2 separate regions of the Homo sapiens genome follow, and region 1 is linked to region 2. The links come from fine-mapping of genetic effects on gene expression. A gene starts in region 2. The other region holds a variant in brackets. All regions are shown on one strand. Distances are from middle to middle.

Region 1 (10,721 bases), 28 kb after region 2:
GCCAATCTCAAACTCCTGGCCTCAAAACTATGCTCTCACCTTGGCCTCCCAAAGTGCTGGGATTAGAGGTTTGAGCCACTGTGCCTGGTTGTCCTGTCTTTCTTACGGGAATGATCAGTGGCGGTGGAGGGGGTGAGCGTAAAGCGCAGCCAGATAATACAACTGGTGACCCAATCTACAAGCTTTGTAGCATCGATGATGGTTCTAGATTTTAAGATGAAGTTCTTTTTTTGTTTTCTTTATTTCTTCTTCTTTTTGTTTTAAGAAACAGGGTCTCACTCTATCGCACAGGCTGGAGTACAGTGATGTGATCATAGCTTAGTGCAGCCTTGAACTACTGGGCTCAATCAGTTCTCCTGCCCCCAGTCTCCCAAGTAGCTGGGACCACAGGCAGTGCCACCACACCCAGCTAAAAAAAAAAGTTTATTTGTAGAGACACAGTCTCAATGTGTTGTCCAGGCTGATCTCCAACTCTTGGCCTTAAGTGATCCTCCCACTTTGGCCTCCCGAAGTGCTGGCATTTCATGCGTGGGCCGCCCAGCCCAAAATGTGATTCCTGAAGGCCATAATTTTACTTTTGGCAAACAGGAACATTCTTGGTAACTATAGTAGTAATTTACCTTTTTCACTTTCTCTCTTCCTATATACCGTCAGGGCCAAGAAAGTGCTGCAGTTCCCACAATTAATCACAGAGGAACTTGAAGTTCTGGAGGTATATTGGAAGATTAGAAATTGCTAAAGCAAAATATTATCATTGTAGGGCATGGACCAAAAAGAAATTAGGCTAATCCAAGATAAAATGAGGCAAATAAGTGTTTGAAATTAAAATTAAAATTGTGATTCACAGTGTTCCTATTGTGTGTATTTAGATGGTATGAATGGTGCCATCCACCAGATGTAGGATTGGTAAATATTTTAGTGTAATAATAGCAATGCTTTTAATTCCCAGGAATAAACTGCACCTAACTTCTTTGGGGTGATTATAAGATTTAGGTCTTTATTTTTTTTTAAAGTAATTGTTTTTATTCATTAAGTTAAACAGTGCCTATCCAAAATAGATTCTTTCACATTTAAGTTCTCAAAAGGACTAACTGGCACATCAAGATCGAAGTTTTAACATCTCATCATTACTCTGTGTTAAGAATGAAGACCACTTTTTTGGTTTAAACAAGTTTCTGAAATGACACATCCGTTTAAAAAGGCAATTGACTTATAAGATAATTCAGATTTACATTATTTTTCACCTTTTATTTTCACTCGCCAAGTCTATTTTTGTTCAACATTTTGCATTTATTTCTTTCAGGAGCCTGTACAAATATTACTTTTCTCTTTGTAATTTGTCTTCCTTGTTTAGCCCCCTTTCCTATACGTTATACATTACAGTTAATATTATCAAGATGAAAGATGATATATTATAATTGTACATTCATGGGGCTTACTCTACACAAGGCACTGTGTTAAGTACATTGTTTTATTGTCCCTTTGAATTCTCGCTACAGCCCTAATGCTACTGCTGCAGCAATCACCCTCATTTTGTAGTGGAATAAGTGGGATAGCTTATGTAAGCCAGCAAGTGGCAGAGGCAGGATTGGACCTTGCCTTCTTTATCCCCAGCCATTGCTCTTTGGTGCTATTATGCTTAGTAATAATCTCTTTTCCATTTTGACAAATTCAACTATAAAAAAGTACAATACTAAGGAAGAACCAAAACCAAGCTGGGGGTGGAGGGAACCCTGTGAACTTATAGACCCTGTCTGTCTTCAAAGTTGCTTGAAGCCCAGTTGAAGCCAGTATCTCCCTCAGCTTTTTCCTTTTTAAAGGAACAGGAACCATTTTGTCTTCTCCCTCTCTCCTCTCTTTAGAGAAGTGTTTTCTTCACCTCACAGAAGAGATTACTTTCGCTTTTTTCAACTATCAGTTGAGTGCTATGGTGTGCTAAGCTAACATGGTAATAGAAATAACTTTTCTCTTGAGTTTTTCATGCCCACAAAAGAAAAATGAATACTTCTCATATGTCCGCTTTGATATACCAGTTTTATGTGATTCAAATTAGTTGTCATGGTCTGTTTGTCTAAGTCAGTCTCTTACTCAGTAAACATTAATGGGGCAGATGCTCTATGCCAGTTCTTGTGCTTTAATGAGGAATTAATTTTAATATGATCCAGCAGAGCTGGAAGTTGTAACGTTTTTGTTACAGGCAGGAAATGTTTAAATTGAAAATAAAAGAATTTCTAAGGTAGAATTAATGTGCTATTCGTCGTGACTTTGAGAATAAAGCTCATTTGCTTTAGTAAAAACTGAGTAAACCTCAGTTTTCTGTTGACAAAAATTGAAATAACTATTAATTTATCTCAATAACTGGTTTAAAGGAAATGAGATAAAGAAGGCTATACAACACTTGAAATTTCTCTATGGTAAAAATTGAAGAATAGGTATCAGCATCATTGTTAAATCAAACAAATTGAAATTCTGTCTGTGAAGTAAGAAAATTAAATAATCCTGGATTAAAACTCAAAATCCACATTAAAACCAATAGTTATTTTTAGAAGACCTGTCCCAATTATGTTCAGTATTGCTATTTAGTTTTTGTATTGTTATAAATAATCAAATTATATTTGATTACCATCTATATTGTTTCAAAAATGAGTCTCTATTTTTCATATGTTATCTTTATATACATAAATATTAGAAAAGTGTTTGAGGCTAAATTTGAGCAATCTTTTCTTGAACAGTTACTTTTGAACAAAAATATTTGCATTTGACAATAACTTTGTATTTTATGTGTTTTTACTCTGTGAGAAAGGAAACTTTGAACTTGACAACTCTGCCATTAAACTGAAAATTACAAGGTAAATCACTGATTTACTAATTAAGTAACCATGGTTGAAAGAACATTCATTTCCTGAGTATCACAAAGCAAAACCTTGCATAGTCCATATATCTGTTAATGAAATAAGTTAATTTGCAAACTTTGATAATGTTACTTAATCAGTGGCAAGTGATAAAAATGTTGCTAGTACTTATTAAATCATTTAAAATAGCTATATGCAGTTTTATTTGCAATATATATATAACAGATATGAGATTTCTGTCCAGAATATATAAAAGGCTCTCAGTAACTAAGTAGGCCAATAGGAAAATAATCATTCACATAGAAGAGAAAGGAAATCCCAATCATAGTGTTTTAAAAATAATGCCAAACTGCACTAATAATAAGGGAAATGAATGCTAAAATAATGATTTTTATTTAGGCCTATGATGTCGACAAAAATTAAACAGAGTTACGTTTACAGGAAATTGAACCGGCTCATAATCTTGGCGAAAGTGTAATTGGATACAGCCTTTTGAACTGATCCCTTTCATTCTACAAATGTTACACAATTATTTACTATAAAGATGAATTTATGTGTAAGTTGTGTACTTTTAAAAAAATAGAACATCTGTGGATTTTGAATTACATTTAGGGAAAAGCAAACTGTGAATGGCAATAATAATAATAATAATAATAGCTTTAAAAACAAAGTCTTTGAATGCATATCAGGCTTATAGAGTAGTGGTCCAGGTCAAAAAGATTAGCAACTCGTACCAACTACACCTTTTTTTTTGTTGTTGTTTTTGAGACAGAGTCTCACTCTGTTGCCCAGGCTGGAGCGCAGTGGCGTGATGTTGGCTCACTGCAACCTCTGCCTCCCGGGTTCAAGCGATTCTCCTGCCTCAGCCTCCAAGTAGCTGGGATTACAGGCGCGTGTCACCACACCTGATTAATTTTCTGTATTTTTAGTAGAGACGGGGTTTTGCCATGTTGGCCAGGCTGGTCTTGAACTCTTGACCTCAGGTGATCCACCCACCTTGGCCTCCCAAAATGTTGGGATTACAGGTGTGAGCCACCGTGCCCAGCCCCTAACTATACCTTTTTCAAAAATGTCACTTTGTCTTAGTTTTCAGTTCTCTCCACTCGAGTCAGTGGAGTAGCAAACACATTTGTATGCAAGCACCAGCACCTCTGGAATGGTCAGTAAGGGTCATTCATATATAAATGCACAAATGGAGTCAAATTGCTTTTCCTTTCCTTAGATTGGCTCCACTGAAGGATTGGAAATTTTGATCCAGAAAAGAGTTGTCAATTTTGGAGCACTTTTGAAGACAGGGTGTAGTCAGTGTCTAGAAAGAAATGCATACCTGTGGCGGTAGGTTCAGATATTAAAAAACAGGCTTGCCTCAAGCCTCTCCTGTGCCCTCAGATGAGCTGCTTCAGGGATTCTATGAGAAAGCAAACTCTGACTAGCCTCTGACTTACAAGCGGACTTGGAGAACAGGCCATTTGTAAATCGAAGGTCATCCAGGCCTGCCTGTCTCATTCTGGAGATCAGAAATGTTAAAAGGAGTGGAGAACCTAGGAAGCATTTACAGATGCCACATCTACGTTAGTAAGAGATCTGGAAACCATATATTAGTTGGTGTAAACTAGAACATTTAAGGGGGACACTATAACATCAAATATGTGAAGATCTGTCATTTAGATCTTCTGTTTGTTGCTATGGTTTGGAAGCCTCAGTATCACAGGTAAAAGTCACAAAGCAGCCAATTTCAACACCCTGGAAGGATGAATTTTCTTATTCTTAGGGCAATCCAACAGTGGAACGGGCTGCCCTCCAAGAAACTACGGGCTTCTGCTAGCTCTAGAAATGCCTGAACTTATATTTGGTAGCTCTCTTGGGCAGGAGATTGGTTGGACTGAGCAATCTTAAAAATTTCTCACACTACCCTCTGGTTCCAGGCTTCAGAAGGCAGCGCATTTCATTCCAGCACCAAGGCCTGAGGTCCCGTGCCCTTTTGAAAAGCTGAATAAGGACAAAAATATACAAAGTCAGACTTGCTACAGCTGAGATAGGGCAAAACTTCCAAAGACTCTAGTACAAAGAGAGAGACCAAATGGGAAAACAAATAGACAATACAAAAGGCGTACATATGTCTTGATTACTAAATACAACTTCTTGCCGCAGCTTGCTTTAGTGCTTGTGGCC[CCT/C]GTCCTCATCTATAATACCTGCTAGCTTGGAATATTTACAACAGCCGCTGAGGAGTGGCAGTTTCCCAGCACTGCCTGGCCTTTCGTTGTGCAACAGGGAGCAAGTAAAGTCACTGTGCATAAGCATTTGTACTTTTAGAAATTAGGGGGAAAAAAAGTGTGTGCTGTGGACACATTTTATTCTTTGTGGAAAGCTCACCAGGTGGTTGCCAGTTTATCAAGAGCAATAAATGCCTGCGGAAATGTAATGACCTGGAGAGCATTGCTTTTATCTGAACTCTATAGTTGGAAGGAAAACCAGTCAACCAAATGATACAGAAATAAGACCCGCAAGGGGCACACTTGACAAGTTTTGTTCCGCAGGACAGGAGCCAGGGCTGAAGTGCGCAATGGAGGCATGGCTGACTGCAGCCTCCAGCCGTTTCCTGCACCCTCTCCACACTGTGCTCACCTCTCCTCCAAATAAAGTTGAATAAATATTTAGAGAATGTTGGTTTGAAGGGAAGCCACATTATTAAGCTACTTAAATGCCTTATGTCTGTGTCAAGCCCCGTTTGCCATAAGCTTCATGTAACCTATTACCTTTTTTTCTCTTTACAGTGTCCATGGAAAACACTGGCGAACAAGGTAAGCTAGATTATATTAATGTTATAGATTTTTTAAATAGTTTGAAAAAAAATTGTATTCACTTAGATTTGGTTGGGATTAATAAATTGTTGTTTGAGAATGTGGAGACAAGCTAGGGTTAAAGATGTCTCATTTCTCTTAAGTTTGCAGATTGAATTCTGTCAGACCCTTGGCAAAGAATTCTATCCTGAAATGGCTGTCATTGTGCCAGAGATTCTTAAGGCTTTGAGGTATAGGGATATCAACAATTTCCTTTCCTAATTCAGATTATGAACTTATAACTGAGTCACCTACATAATTTATGAAAAATATTGTTGGCTTTAGTCATCTCACACCGATTTAAGTGCCTTATTGAATAATTCAAATTTTTAATGATTCTATGAGTATCCTCATTCTTTAGAAAAATTTAAAATTGCTATTAAAGTTTTAAAATGCCAAATATGCTATATTTAAATTAGCATATTTTATTCAATGATATCTTACAGAATTAAATTGTGTATTAATGTATTACCCAGAAGGAAGCATTATCACCATATAGAAAATTAATATTTAAAATTTGGGCCGGGCACAGTGGCTCATGCCTGTAATCTCAGCACCTTGGGAGGCCAAAGCGGGCAGATCATTTGAGGTCAGAAGTTCAAGACCAGCCTGGCCAGCATGGTGAAACCCTGTCTCTACTTAAAAAAAAAAAGAAAAATACTAACATTAGCCAGGTGAGGTGGGGCATGCCTGTAATCCCAGCCACTCAGGAGGCTGAGGTAGGAGGATTGCTTGAGCCCCAGGGGGCGGAGGTGGCAGTGAGCCACTGCACTCCAGCCTGGGCGACAGAGTGAGACCCTGTCTCAAAAAAAAGGAAAGAAAAGAAAAGAAAATTTTGGATAGTATTTCAAGACTTTATAACACCACCCAGAGTGTGTTTATATGCATTACTGAAAAAAGTATTCAGAACACTTTTTTAAAACAATTGTCCCATGTAATAAATAAGACACTTGAACTCCCACTGAAGGAAATCTCTTTGTCCAGATGTTCTCCATTTAAATGTGTTATCATTACACCAGCTTTGACTAGAGCCAAGCAAATAAGCAAACAGCTTCTCAAATAGGAACTGCCTTTGTTATCTGTGTCAGTAAAGCAAAGTTCTTAAAGCCTGAGTGTTTTAACACTTGTTTTTAATGCTGTGTTTGCTGTTTAAATTTGGAGGCGTAACTGCCTCATTTTTACAATTTAGAAAAGGTCCTTGTTAGTGATTTTGCCAATAGATGGTCTGTCTACAGATGGGAGGCTTTTATTCATGGGCATAGATCTCATTATGCATTTAGGAATTTTTGTAAAAAACTCTTGGCTTTGGAAATAAATTCGTTGAGTTGTGTTTATTCTAGTATAAAGTAAAGGAACTTTCATAATGTATTATAATTGGTAATTTGGTTATTTTAAAACAAGCAGATCGGTTGTGACTGTCATAATTTTAGTATGTATTTGCATATTATAATGATAATTATGTTTTTCTCATTTTAGTTGTGTGCCTGATGGCCTATCATCTACTTTTTGCAATGTTTGTCTGGTCATACTGGAAAACTATCTTTACATTACCAATGAATCCTTCAAAAGAAGTAAGTTAAAATATTAACGAAATTATTCTAATAATAGAAATCAATAATACTGATGTATTATTGAAGAACGAATTTTATTTTAATGTTGCAAACTTATTGAGTTTAGTGACTTTTTAGATTAAAAAAATTAGTATTTCTGTTAATAAATACTTGAATTTTCACCTGGAAATATTAGTGTTTTCACCAGATAAGCACTGCATTTTCTGTATTGAATCTGTTATGAATTCCATTTCCACTTTAGAGTCAGACATCAGGATGGATGGATAGGTAGACAAAGATAGATAATAAAATAGAGCTAGAAGGTAGACATAATTCTATGATAATTATCACATTAAAGGTGTATTAGTTGGTTATCAGCCACCAGAAACAACAACAACAAAATAATGGCTTAGCTAATCTTCTCTGCATTCAAAAAGTCTGTAGCTAGTCCACAGCTTCCAGGTGCCCACACTCCTTCTATCTTGTTTCTCTGCCACGTGTAGCCTCCATTTCCAAGGTCCCCTCTTGGTCTAAGGGGGACTCTGCGGTTCCAACCATCACATCTACATTGTAGCCAGCAGACCAAAGAAAGTAGGAAAGAGAAGTAAATGTCCTCCTCTTCAAGAACACTTTCTAGACATTGCTGACGTCATTTCCACTTACATTTAGAAGTTGGTTATATGGCCACATCTACCCACAAGGAAGGGGGGAGTGTAGCCTTTCTTCTCGATGACCATGTTAAACATGAGAGAAGAAGAGAAATATGGTTACTGAGAGACAACTAGCAATCTCTGCTTCAGAGGGCTTTAAGTAGAGTGATGGATCAAATTTGCATGTTGAAAAGATCATTCTGTTTGTTTCTGGATCATGCATCCTGGTTAAACGTTCTTGGAGCAAAGAATTGTGTCTCACTCATTTTTGTATCCTTGGCGTATAGCCCAGTACATTGTTGAATAAAAATATACTTTGCTAACTCTAATAACAGTGTAGTTTTAGTAAGCCAAGTTTAAAAAAAAAAAGCATCACTGTAGACTGTTTACTGAAGTAATCAGTTTGAAATGCAACTTTGGTCAAAAAAGCCAATAAATATGCTATTTGGCTTGGGAGAGGATGGTAAAAACCACAGATGTTTGCGCAGAATTAATGGTATGCCTGGCTTAGAATGCCTATCTATTGCCTGTTTTTCTTCTATTCTCCACTTCTTTTTCTATCCCAGTCTTTTTTTTTCCTTCCTCCTACCATATTTGCTTCTTTTCCATCATCTCTCTTACCCTCATCCTGTCCCTAGTAGTAGGTTTGAAGAAAAATACTGACTTCTATCATAGGTAGTCTCATCCACTCTGGTAGTTTACATACAACCTCTGTTTTGATAACTCCCAAATCTGTTTTGAGTTCTAAACTCCCCCTTAAATTTCAAACTTATGTATCCCCCTGCCAAGCATAGCTTCTTGATAATTCCACCAACATCTCAAATACAAAACATCAAAAACAGACGTCATCACCTTCTCCTTCCCCAGACTGTGAGTCATCTGTTTCTTATGTCAGTTAATGGGCAGTTTATCACTGCTCTAATTCTGGGTCTTCATCATCTCCCTTGTCTGAGATATTGTATTCTTCTCCTGGTAATTTGGTTATTTTAAAACAAGCAGATCATTTGTGAATACCATAATTTTAGTCTGTACTTGCATATTATAATGATAATTATGTTTCTCTCATTTTAGTTGTGTGCCTAATGGCCTATCATCTACTTTTTGCAATGTTTGTCTGGTCATACTGGAAAACCATCTTAAGGTTTTCTGTTTACAGCCTGGCCTACCTTTCCTTCCCAGAACCCCACAAAACTTCATCCAATACCCTGAAGCTGGAGTGGTCCTCCTAAAAACCAATGTAACGCCTTCCCTCTACTGCTTGTATCTATTGTGATTCCATATATCCCACAGGGGAAAGCTCAGTCTCTTCTGCCTAGCAATAGCAGCTCTTGTCTCAATTTCTGACTTTATACTTTATACTCTAGTAGTTCTTAACTACACATAGTTTCCTGTATACAACATGGCATTATTTCCTTTCCAAAATATTCTTACCCCTTTCTCATGGAAATAATATATTTATTTTCCATTCATACTGGCAGCTCCTTCTTGGCCTCCTTTGCTGGTTCCTCTTCAGCTCCTAGACTGCCAAAGCATTGGAATGTTCCAGAGCTTAATCCCTGGACTTCTCTTCTTATATACCTGCATTTATTCCCTCGTGGATTTCATTGAGTTCTGTGACTTTATGTGTCACCCCAGTGCCGCAGCTCTCAGATTAATATATTAGCCTGGTGCTTGCTAATAAACGCCTGACACATTTCCAGCTCCCTATTTGACATCTAATAGAAATTTCAGGTTCAACACAACTGAAAACAAACTTCTGATTTCTCATTTAATTCCCCAGTTCTTCTAGTCCTAAAGTTTTCTTATGTCAGTAATGACAGTTTCACTCTTCTGTTCAGGCCAGAAACATTGGTGTCATCCTTGGCTACTCTTTTTCTCTCGGACGCCACATCTAGTCAATCAGAAAATTCTATACCCTCACCCTCAGAGTATGGCCACAATGTGAACTCATGTGCCGCACTGCTCCCTGCTCCCACCCCGGTCCAAGCCACCATCCTCTCTCATTTATAGATTTGCAGTAGCCTCTTAACAGGTTTCTTTTTGTTGGGTTTTTTTTTTTGGTGTTTTGTTATGTTTTTTTTTTTTTTTTTTTGGCCTCCTCTTGTGTATTTTCAACACAGTAGCCAAAGTGATCCTTTCAAAAGACAAGGCAAATCTCTCACCTTTTTGATGTCTTTATACAAATGGTACCTTATCATTGAGGCTGTCTGTGATGACTCAACATAGAATAGCAACCCCACTACCCTCGGCTTTCCCTGCACCTTACCTTCCTGGATTTTTCTCCATAACATTTACCATCATGGCAACACACTGCATATTTATTTGTTGAATACTTTTGAAAATACACCATCGTTAGAATGTAGGTTCCATAAGGGCGTGAAATGTATCTTTGTTCACTGCTTCATCACCAGTGCCTAAAGCAGTGTCTGACCTATAGAAGGTACTCAAGAGATACTTTTTAAGTGACTAAAAGTAGGGAAGAAGTTATTCATACACATGCAGGTTTATTTTTATGGCCTTGGCAGGAAGTTGAAGTGACTTCTAACTTCTCTCTAAAATTATATATGACATCATTGGCTAACAGTGAAGACCTAAGTGGGTTAATTAAGGGTTGGGAGAGTAGAGAAGGTTTGAAATAGTGGATTGGACAGAGTGGCAAAAGGATATGAAACACACGGAAGAAAGAACACAGCATTGAAGGAGCAGTCAAATCGATGACAGTGACATTATAACGGTATCAGGCTTCATTGTGTGATTTTTCTACAAAAGACGTACCTTAGTCATACAACTGTTTGAGATAGATACTATTTTTTACTATTTTACAGATGG
Region 2 (10,721 bases):
ATAGTGCAAACGGCAGCCAGTTCCTTTCTGTTTCCCCACCATTTTTTGTCAGTGCCGGAGCCTCATTTTTTTTCTTTCCAAGGAGACTGAGGTCTACATTGATGTGATTGAAGTCCATCCACAGGGTTCCTCTAGGGCCTTTCGCAATTACTGGGTATCCCTTCAAAGTGATATCTACATTTTCTGGAATATGGACAGTCTGGTTGCAGAGAATGGTTTTCATTCTCACAGTAGACACAGCGAAAAGGTGGTTCTTTACTCTTTGGATTCCTCTTCAAAGGAAGAAATTTCCTAGTACCAAAACGTAAAATTGTTTTCAACTTCCTGTTACCTCTAATTTTTGTTTCTATAAAACAGTGAAGGGATTATTACATAGGGGACTTTTTTGTTTCTTACATTTACAAGAATAAAGCCTTTTGAATATTCAGACAAGACAAAATGTCTAAACAGTTCTGTCCAACAGAACTTTCTTCAATGATGGAATGTTCTAGATCTGCAGCATCCAATGCAGTAGCCACTAGCCACATGTGGCTATTGAGCATTTGAAATGTGACTATTGCAACTAAGAATTTCCAATTTCATTTCATGTTAATTTTAACAAATTTGAATAGTGGCAACAAATGTTACTAGTGGGTACTTATTGAACAATGCAGGTCAAGAGAGTGTGATTTGAATGGCACCAAGTAAGCTTCTTCACCCCCAAATTCCTGTATCCCTATTTCTCAAGGTGCCTTGGTCTCCATGAGCTGAAACTAACTCTTTAAGCAATGAGATGCAGAATGAAATTAAAACTACGTGCCATTCAGAGTTCTTGGTTGTAAACACAAGTCAACTCTAGTTGACTTACATAAAAAATGTTATGCAGTTATATAGGCACTCCTCCAAAATCAAAAGGAAGCCTGGAGAATCAAGCTTGAGCTGGAACAAAGGAAGCTGGTGCATGGCCAAGATCTTGCCACCAAGAACAGTCAACCTAGGATGCCATTGCTGCTCTTAATATCCCTGGACACTTGCCACTACACTGCAGAATTCTGCTGCCCTTGGTCACTCTCTGCTGGCTGTTCAGCTCTCAACTCCACAACGGCCACTTCTAATAATCTCCAGTTGAACTTCGGACATTGTATCACCCCTTAGAGATCCATAGTATAGCTGTGTCAGTCCACTGGAAGGACATGTCTGCTCACCTTTTGGGTTCATAGACAGTGCCCCTCCCCATTTAGGGGCAAAGAAGGGAAACAGTGTAAGCAAAAATATTATTTCAATGAAAATTTCCTATTTTATTTCCAAAGAGATTGACCTTAGTGCGAATTCTAAAGAAGTGCACGCAGAATCAGAACGATTTACTATATAGAAAAATGCTTTAAGTCTTTTAAATTTTTTGAATAGGGTTGTCGTTTTTATTAATCGTTAGCCATTAAATTATAATATAAAAACTGTATAATTATAACATAACTTTTTGTTTTGAGAAGGAGTTTTGCTCTTGTTGCCCAGGCTGGAGTGCATTGGCGTGATCTTGGCTCACTGCAGCCTCCACCTCCCAGGTTCAAGCAGTTCTCCTGCCTCAGCCTTCCAAGTAGCTGAGATTACAGGCACCCGCCACCACGCCCAGCTAATTTTTTGTATTTTTAGTAGAGATGGGGTTTCGCCATGTTGGCCAGGCAGCTCTCAAACTCCTGACCTCAGGTGATCTGCCCGCCTTGGCCTCCCAAAGTGCTGGGATTACAGGCGTAAGCCACCGCGCCTGGCCAATTATAACATAATTATAATTAGTTACAATGATATATAATTGTTCATGAAGTTATAATTCATATTTATAATTGCCTTGCTTAAGCTAACAGTTGATAACTATTGAAATCTATGGAGAAAAGGTGAAGACTGCTGCACTGCTTGGTGTGTGCCTGCCATCTAGTGGCAGGACACATTAATGCTACCGTGAAAGCCCTAGTGTGCCTGAAAGGCAGGTTTGCCAGGGACAGTTTGCTCCACTTTACATTGTCCCAGTGTTTCGACCCAATCAACTGTATACAGAGACATCCTTAGGCTTTTGAAATTATCTCCCATTTTATTCAATATAATTACAGCTGAATTGCAAACATAAATCTCTGACAGCCAAAACATATCTAAGCATTACTTCATTCCTACATTCCCTAAGCGCGATTCCTTTTCTTTTATTTTATGTATCTCCAGAAACAAAAAGTGGTTTAGGCATGCTATTCTTCTCCCACAGAGAATGTTTTGACCGCTATTATAAACATGCACATTGACACTGGAGTCACTGATGTCATGGACTGCTGCCTTCTAAAGAGCTCTTCTCCCCCAAAAGAGTGATAAGATTAAGTTTGAGAAAATAATGAAAGAGAATCTATCAGTATTCATGCAGACCACTCTAGTAAGGATGGGAGAGCCATTAGTAAATAAGATATAGATCCAGACCTCAGCTTCATTGCTTCCAATCCTTGTAAGATTTAGAACTCCTTGTATTTGTGAAGTATCATACCCTCTTAGCAAACTCAAGACAATCAACGTCTCATATACATGAGACTAATACGACTGACCTCATATCTTGTTGCAATGTTGCCCTCTAAGAACCCTTCCAAAAGGAAGGAGTAAATATCAAGCAAGTGTCCTAATAGTTTCTGGTAGGTGTTTTGGCTGAAAAGCTTGAGATGAGGTTGGCATAGGCAACATTAAGGGGGATCTGTGTTCTCTAGCAGCAGGTGCGTCCACGCCTTCCTGGGTTTGGCTAGCATGCTATGTTTGATTCATACTATGCAAGGGACTATGTTAAAATGGTAATCTGGATCTGCAGGCAGAAGGAAGATTAGCAGTATTAATCATGAAAGTACGGCAGACTTGAGGTTTGGGAACTCAAGAATTTGGGGGACTGGGCTGGAGGGAGAGGAGGAACGTTTAAGGTTCCTGGGCTGGGCACGGTGGCTCACACCTGTAATTCCAACACTTCCGGAGACCGAGGCGGGCGGATCACCAGGTCAGGAGTTTGAGACCAGTTCGGCCAACATACTGAAACCCTGTCTCTACTACAAATACAAAAAATTGGCCGGGCACGGTGGCGGGCACCTGTAATCCCAGCTACTCGGGAAGCTGAGGCAGGAGAATCGCTTGAACCCGGGAGGCGGAGGTTGCAGTGAGCCGAGATGGCGGCATTGCACTCCAGCCCAGGCAACAGTGCGAAATTCTGTCCGCCCCCCCCCCCCAAAAAAAGAGAGATTCCTTCATGGGGCAGGAACTGAAAATAAGAGTTGTGAAAATTTGAGAGGTGAATGATGTTGCTAGACCGCTGAGTGCAAGGAGCATACAGGCAGAGGCCTAGCGAGGATGGAGTCATGGTCATTAGGGACTGGATGAACCCAGCAAGGGGGCTTTTCTCCCGTTCTCAGTCACTCCCCTCACCCCCCTCCTTGCCTGGCTGTCCGCTCGTCTCTTCTCTTCCTTAGCGTCGCCTTCTTCCTCCTTTGCTGTGGCTGGCTTTCTTTTTCATAAGTGGTCATATCAGTTTAATCACAGTTATACATGAAACCTACAATTTCTTATGCTTATTGAACATTTAAATTAAAATTCGTGAGTTGAATCTTCTGTATTTCTAAACAGTAAGTCTCTAGTGAAGTTTCTTCTTGTCTATGACCTTCAAATTATTTTTTCTGTTTATGTAGTCCTAAAGAAAAAGAAAATAAATCAAAGGCTCTCTATACCTCAAAATAAAAGCTCTCCTTCCACTCTCATCAAAGACTAGTATCTAGAGATTGGCTACTCACCAAAGAGCTTACATTTGTGCGTGCTGCTTATGCCTAATTAGAGACTACGCAGAGATCAATCCTGTTATCTTGTGGCTGTGGAGATGCTTCTTCCTAATCCAGACTTTTTCTGTATTTAAGATAAGAGAACTTGAAAAACCCAGTAATAGTAGTATCCTTAAAATGGCAATAACAAAAAAAAGTTGAAAATATTTCACAAATATTTATTATAAATAGGAACAATTAAACAACATCTTAGATGAGTAATAAAAATGTAGCTCCTTCAAAGATATGACACCTGCATACTTTTCCAAAAGGGTAGATGATGTGAAAACTGGGCAGAATGCTATTCCATTTCCGATTTCAAGACCCTGTAGGACTGTGAGAGGAGGAAGAGCACAGGGCATCGTCGCATCCAGGATCTACAGAGGCACTATTTGCACTTTCTCCACCGTTTCCAGTATGGAAAATCCGATTCCTTCCTTTTCATACCTTGATGGTCTCTATTGACCTTCAGTCACTGATTTGCTTCTCTTTGTGAGGGTATTTCAGTCCCAGGAGGAAGTTTTAATTCCTGTTTTTTACTCTCTTCTGATTGGGGGGGAACACAGGATTAATATTCATGGAAAACATTAAGGAATCCAGAGAAGTTTTATTTTTACATTAATATACAGAATATCCACAGAGAATATAAAAGGCTACAGCAAAATCAAGTGATTCACTGGGACATAATATGTCTCTCTTTTCAATTATTTAAAGTCCCACAGAAACTTGACTGACATTTTCTATGCATTTTTGAAGAGAAATGGAAAGAGATGTGGGGTGGGGGGCTGTAACATAGTAGCTATTTCGGGAGAGATTAGCTTGTTGTGTAATCCAGTCACAGAAAGATAATCGCAGACACCAGAGCTAAATTTCTTTGACTGAATTCATGTAAATCAGTATTTTTTTTTTACTTCTACACATGAATAAGAAGTAATTTCATTCACTGTGGTTGCTGTGTGGTGTAAATACACATATTCACTAATGTTAAGAAAAATTGTGCCTATTATGTATAGTAGTGATGCACATAATTTACACACACTCATTGATTGAAATGTTTCCCTGTGGATCAGGTGCGTTCATAATCAGATGAAGGAAAAGCAAAGGAGGCATTTGTTTATTTTCCATTTCGTGAATCATAAAATCAGAGGTTTGGGCTGACTACCTTTAGGTTCCCTTACGGTGTTTTTTGGGAACCGCTTTGGAGTCAGCTATCTGCTAAGTTTGGAATTGCCACCACGAAAGTAAACACCGTAGTGAGGAGCGGGTTGAGGAAAAGAATAAATAGTTGGTGGAAGGAACCACCGTACTTGAGGGAGGGGACAGTGGGAACGGCCCCTGTCACAATCATTTATCCAAAGCATCAACATTCTCAGAGCAAAGAACTTGTGTTTCTAACTCCAGAGGTGCCTGGATTCACAGCCAAAAATGCTTCTTCCTCGCTCTCCACAGCCCCTCCCATGCCAGACGCCGGCTCGGCACCCCCTCTTCGCTGTGCATTTCTGCTTCCCCCGAAAGCCCGAGTAGTAAAGGGAGGCTCCTTGCGGCCCCCGCGGGCTCCCAGGGACCCGCAAGTTGAAGCGCGAGGGTTCCACGCGGGCTGCGGGGACGCGGGCCTCGGTGCTGCAGACTTTCTCAGGGCGCCTGGGTCGCGGCAGGCGCGGAGTCCCGAGCGCAGCAGCTGCTCCGCCGGCCTCGCCTCCGACCCCCGCCCTGCGCCAAGCGCGGAAGCGCTCGCGACCTAACTGCCCCGGGTGCCGGGCGCCTAGGGAGGGGCCGCCACCGCCCGCTCCGCCCCGGGGGCCTGCGCCCAGCAGCCCCCGCCTCCCCGGAATCCAGAGGCCGAGCCGGAGGCGGCGGGGCCACGGTGGGAGCCCGCGAGGTGGCCCGAGCGAGGGCCCCGCATCCCCGCAGAGCCCGCCCGAGGGCGCAGCCTGCCACGCCAGGGGAGGCGGCCGGGCGGCGGGGAACGGCGGGGGCGGAGCGCAGCCTCCCGACGCCGCCGCCTCACCGCCCCCCTCCGCCTCCTCGGCCTCCGCTCGCAGCCGCCGCCTCCGCCTCCGCCGGGCTGAGGAGCCGGGAGTCCGCCGCGCCGGCTCGGGGCTGCGGGATGGGGAGTTAGCGCCACGGCGGCGGCAGTGGCCGCAGCGCACCCCGCCGCCGCCCAGGAGCCCGTCCAGCCAGGGGTGCCGGGCCCGCCCAGCCCGCCCCGGAGCCAGGCCCGCGGGCGGCGGCGGAGCTGGGCAGGTGGATGCGGCTGGAAGATGGCGCCCTCGGGCCCGGGCAGCAGCGCCAGGCGGCGGTGCCGGCGGGTGCTGTACTGGATCCCGGTGGTGTTCATCACCCTCCTGCTCGGCTGGTCCTACTACGCCTACGCCATCCAGCTGTGCATAGGTGAGTGCGCCCCCCGCCGCGGCGCCCCCAGCGCAGCGCAGCCCACCCCGACTGTCCCGGGACGCTCAGCCGCTCCTCCGCTCTCGCCCCCCGGATGCGCCCCGGGCGCTGCCAACCTGCCGCGTCCCGCCGGCTCCGCCGCTAAAAGCAGCCTCGGGGCAGCTTCTTCCACGCGCACGCCCCTCGCCCTCCCCTCCCAACTCTCGGGTTAAGGTGGCGCCTCCGCCCCGCACTCGCCGCCGAGCCTCCCGCCGCCTTCCGCTCACCGCCGCCGCCTCGGCCACACCCCCTAGAGGGGCGGAAGGTCCCCGGGACCGCTGTGGAGAGGGGAGGCCGAGGCCGGCGAGGCGCGCCGGGGGCTGAAGGGCTGAGCTGGGCCCGGCCCCGAGCTGCGCCAGACCCGCGCGGGGGTGCTGGCCTTGGCGGCGGAGCTGGATCCCTTGCTGGTTGGCGTCAATGCACTTGTTAAAAATTTGTGACAGCGCTCAGGGGCGTTTTTGCTGCCTTTATGATTTGAGGATTGCCAGTTGGACACTTTTCTAGTTTAAAAGGATGTGGAGGAGGTGAGCTACTAGAAAGTATTTTTGAGGACATGTGCAACACACTAAACCATAATTTAGGTGTTTGAACAGTAGGGAGAGAAAAAAAGAGGTGATCGTCTGAGGTTTTTACATCCAGAGAGCGAAGTGGCTCCAGTCCGAGTTCGAGGTTCCTGAATTGGTGGGTAGGATACTTTTAATGCTGAAGATTAAAATTTTTTAAAAAGTTGATTATTATGCACAAGTAGGGAGTACAATGATGTCGCTTAATGTAAGCTGGTTTCTACCTTCAGGGGTTTTATGAAAACTGATCTGGGTTATCAGAAAAAGATGTTAAAACAGAAAATGACCTTTCTGCCAGTGACTTGTGAATGCTTTCTGTGTTTGGTGCTCCACCTAACAAAGTGTCTGTTTTTGCCCTACCAAGTGCTAGCTTTGGGTGGGACGAGGGAAAAGATGAAATAGTGGCCTATTATATTGAGCCTTCACAAGCTCAGCATTTTCAAAGCCTCAAGATTCAGACATAAAATCTTGTCTGAAGCCATCTTACCTCAAAATGTTGCGCCTTGTGAGAAAGTGTCATAATAATACATCAAAATAATCACTGATGTAAGTTGTAAGAGAACCGAGACTTTTATTTCATATAGTTTTAAAATTTGCTGTTATTACTTGAAGGGATTTAGAAACAAGCTTAATAGTCCAAAAAAAAAACCTTGAGTCTGTTGTTGGGAAAAGATGAGGCTGTACAGGCATTATCATGAGGATGCATTTAGGTATGCAGTCGTCAAGTCATCTAAAATATATAGGAAAGGACGTGTAGTAAATTTTGTATTAACTGTTAATCTTAAAATAGCTTGCCTTATTGAGATAGACTGTATATGTTACGTAACTGTTGGGAACCTTTGTTGTGTTTCATTCCTTCGTCCTCTTAAAAACAGTGACCAGTATCGATTAATATAACCTGCAAAGAAGGGACATCCTAGAAGGCCTTCATTATCAAAATAGCCTATTCTCCTGTATTATCACATTAAGCTAAGACGCTTATCTTGGTACAGTGTCTCCTGTCCATTAAGAGGAAGCATTTGAAGGCAGAGAGAGCTCTTCTGCCCGTTAGAAGGATGTCTGCTCCTAGCTGAGGTGCTATATGGCAGATCTTATTATTGTATTGGGTAGACAGGTGATGGGGAAGGAACTAAATGGAAAATTGGTATTATATCTGAATCGTATGTTTATATGTACTTTCTGTAAGTTTAAGACAAATCTAGAGTATCCATAAAATCCGCATCAGTATTTTAGTAAGTGACGATTTGACTAAGAGGAAGAATGCCTCTTTTTAAACTGCCTAAGTGGCGTGGCCTGTTATTGATACCTTATCTATCACTTCTTGTCCCTGCCTGCCTGGCGCAATGCCTGTCTGCCTGGCGTAATGCCTGTCTGCCTGGCCTGGCGCAATGCCTGCCACATTGAAAACAACAGTAAGTGGTCTTGAATAAACAAATAAATGATTCAGAGGCACTATCTCCTAGGTTTTCAGAAAGTAGCTTTTATATTTTTATTGCTGTAGAAACAAAAAGTAATTGTTATGAAAGATCTAGATTCTAGAGTCTAAGAAGGAAGAACAAGTTGAAGCTGAATTTGATTCTAGAGACCATGGCAGTTTATGAGTGGCAAGCTTTGCATAGCCTTGGTCGAGTGGGAAGTTGAAATTTCCTTATAGGCACTGGGAAAGATGGCGACTAGTGTGACTGACACACAAAACCAGACTCCCAGACTCCTTTCCTTTTCACAGACAAAGCAAATGGAAATACCAGCCCCCACCCTACCCCCAGTATTAATCACATCTCAGACTGCCCTGCCCTTTGAAGATTCTTTTTCTCTTGGAAGTTGCCATTTACAAGCAGATTTTCCAAATTTCTTCCATAAAACATTGGCCAAGGTTGGGACCAGAGTGTGGGGGTCGAGGGCTGGGAACTGGATCAGGTAGCAAATGGAATAGAAGAAACAAGGTGATTTACCCTGGTCCTCCTTCCACATCTGCTCTCAGCTAGGGATGACCCTGAATATAAATTATTCTGTGCCCTTTGCTGAATGAACTGCAATTTAGGAGTAGTGCTTATCCTGGTATCCTTGGAAACTGGAGATAATGATTCTCATTACAGTTAGTTTCTATATTTAACAACGTGGATGTATGTGGCTCTCTAGGCACTTTTTCAGTTAGCATAATTTTTGCTTAGTGTTTGTATTTTATAAAAATAACCTCTCTTTTTGGAATATGTGTATATGTAAAATATATGGGATGTACATATATTGTGTGAGAGTCAAGTATTTTTGGTTAAGTCAGCTTCCTATTCTGCCAAAGAAAAGATCACAAAAGACAGTTATACTTCTAATCATTTGGACCACGTTTATCTCGTTTGTTGATTAACGAGGCTCTTCTATTTGTATTCCTCCCCCTCCATCCTTTCCTTCTCTTACCACTCCTTTTCCCTCTCCCCTGTCCCTCCTGTCCCTCTCTCCACTCCTGGCTTCTTTTGTGTTTTAACTCTCTTTGCTCTCTTTAGATATTAGGTTGGTTTCCGTCAAGTAAGATAAACTCAAAGGTAACATTTGTACGGGGAACTTTAGGATGCACTATGAGAGGGAATGAGGGAGGTCTGCAGCCTCAGGCATGCTCCATTCAGCGAGCACACGACGTGGTTTATGTTTTACAGATCCCTTATGGCTGCTGCTGTGTTAACTTCGCTTGTTGAAGAAGGTTCACTGAAGTTTCCCCTTTTAAGTGCTAACATTTAAATTGTTTTAACTATTTCATACCGTTTTCTTTATTTCAGATTTACTGAAAAGTTTCAATAGTACAAGAAACTTCCACATACACTTGTGTAACCAGTTCAGTTCCCATTTTTCTTAAATATATTACTTTCCTGCTCCTTAGGCAGGTGCTATGGGACGTTTATGATGATGTTGCGCAGTCATGTAGTTCTGAATTTGCTTACGGTTTTAGTTACGTCATTTTAAACGATCATGAATTTTCAAAAGCTTAAAGGTCATCCAGGCTAACCCCTTCTGTATTTTTAAACGAAAGAGTTAAACTAAATTCCAGAGTTGCCACAAGTTCAATGTCCTTCCTCCGAGTTACCTAGCGGAGGTGTCAGCTATGACCTTAGCTGCTGTAATGCAGATGTCCAGATGTCTCCTTTTCCCAGCAAACCCCTCTCCAAATATCTTAGCCCATTGAAGTTATGCAGCAACTCTTTTTAACTTTATTATCGTTTACAGAGAGTTGACAGAGCTCTGAAAATAAGCCAACAGTCTTTACACAATTTTAGAGATTTAAAGGGCTTTGTAGTTTGGGGCTATATAGTACATATTTTTGGCTTTGCAAGCCGTGTGATCTCTGTTCCAACCACTCAACTCTGCTATCTTAGAGAGCGGCCATAGAAGATACTTTAACAAATGGGCGTGGCTTTTATTCAACAAAAATATTTGGCCAATCTTGGCCCTTGGGCAAAAGTTTGCTGAGCTTTGGAGTATGTGGGAAGCTAGACCACTAGAATCTTGAGGTTTTACTCGCAGTTTTGCTGTCTTTATTACTAAACATCCTTCAGCAGTGATTGCAGCCTGTTATATTCCACAGTGATTATAATACTTAGGGATCAGTTTGAGAGATACGCTGCCATGTTTTCATTCTTTTAAACAAACAAGAAAACAAACATCCCTAAGAACAAAATACACAAAGCCTCCTACTTGGATTCTGTGAAGTTATGACCTACCATTCATTGAAGGCCACTGCAGGCTCAAGGATAGAGACTGCTGGGGCTGTCAGTTGTTTTCCACCATGAAATGAATTTGAGCTACACAGAAGAAGAAATGTTTTCTTGTTATTGATTTTAAACTGTTGCTTTATATTATTAATATCTTGATATTCCTGATACTTAAACTATTACTTTAAAAACTGTGTAGGACAATAAAGCATTTTTCACAAAAAAAGAACAGG

Evidence for each region.
Region 1: its variant is fine-mapped to the expression of ZDHHC2 in esophagus mucosa (GTEx, PIP above 0.99). The same link has a PIP of 0.9 or more in sun-exposed skin.

What each region holds. Positions count from the first base shown.
Region 1 is chr8:17,179,163-17,189,883 of GRCh38, forward strand. It overlaps ZDHHC2 (zDHHC palmitoyltransferase 2), which reads left to right. Exons shown (of 13, transcript NM_016353.5): 2 at 5,627-5,653; 3 at 7,169-7,263. Among named protein-coding and RNA genes, the nearest start is that of ZDHHC2, 28 kb to the left of the region's middle. The variant CCT/C (reference allele first, on the strand shown) is at 5,025.
Region 2 is chr8:17,150,666-17,161,386 of GRCh38, forward strand. ZDHHC2 (zDHHC palmitoyltransferase 2) reads left to right here and starts at 5,817. Exons shown (of 13, transcript NM_016353.5): 1 at 5,817-6,188. The coding sequence starts at 6,059. It also overlaps the pseudogene RPL9P20. RefSeq lists a silencer at 5,276-6,635.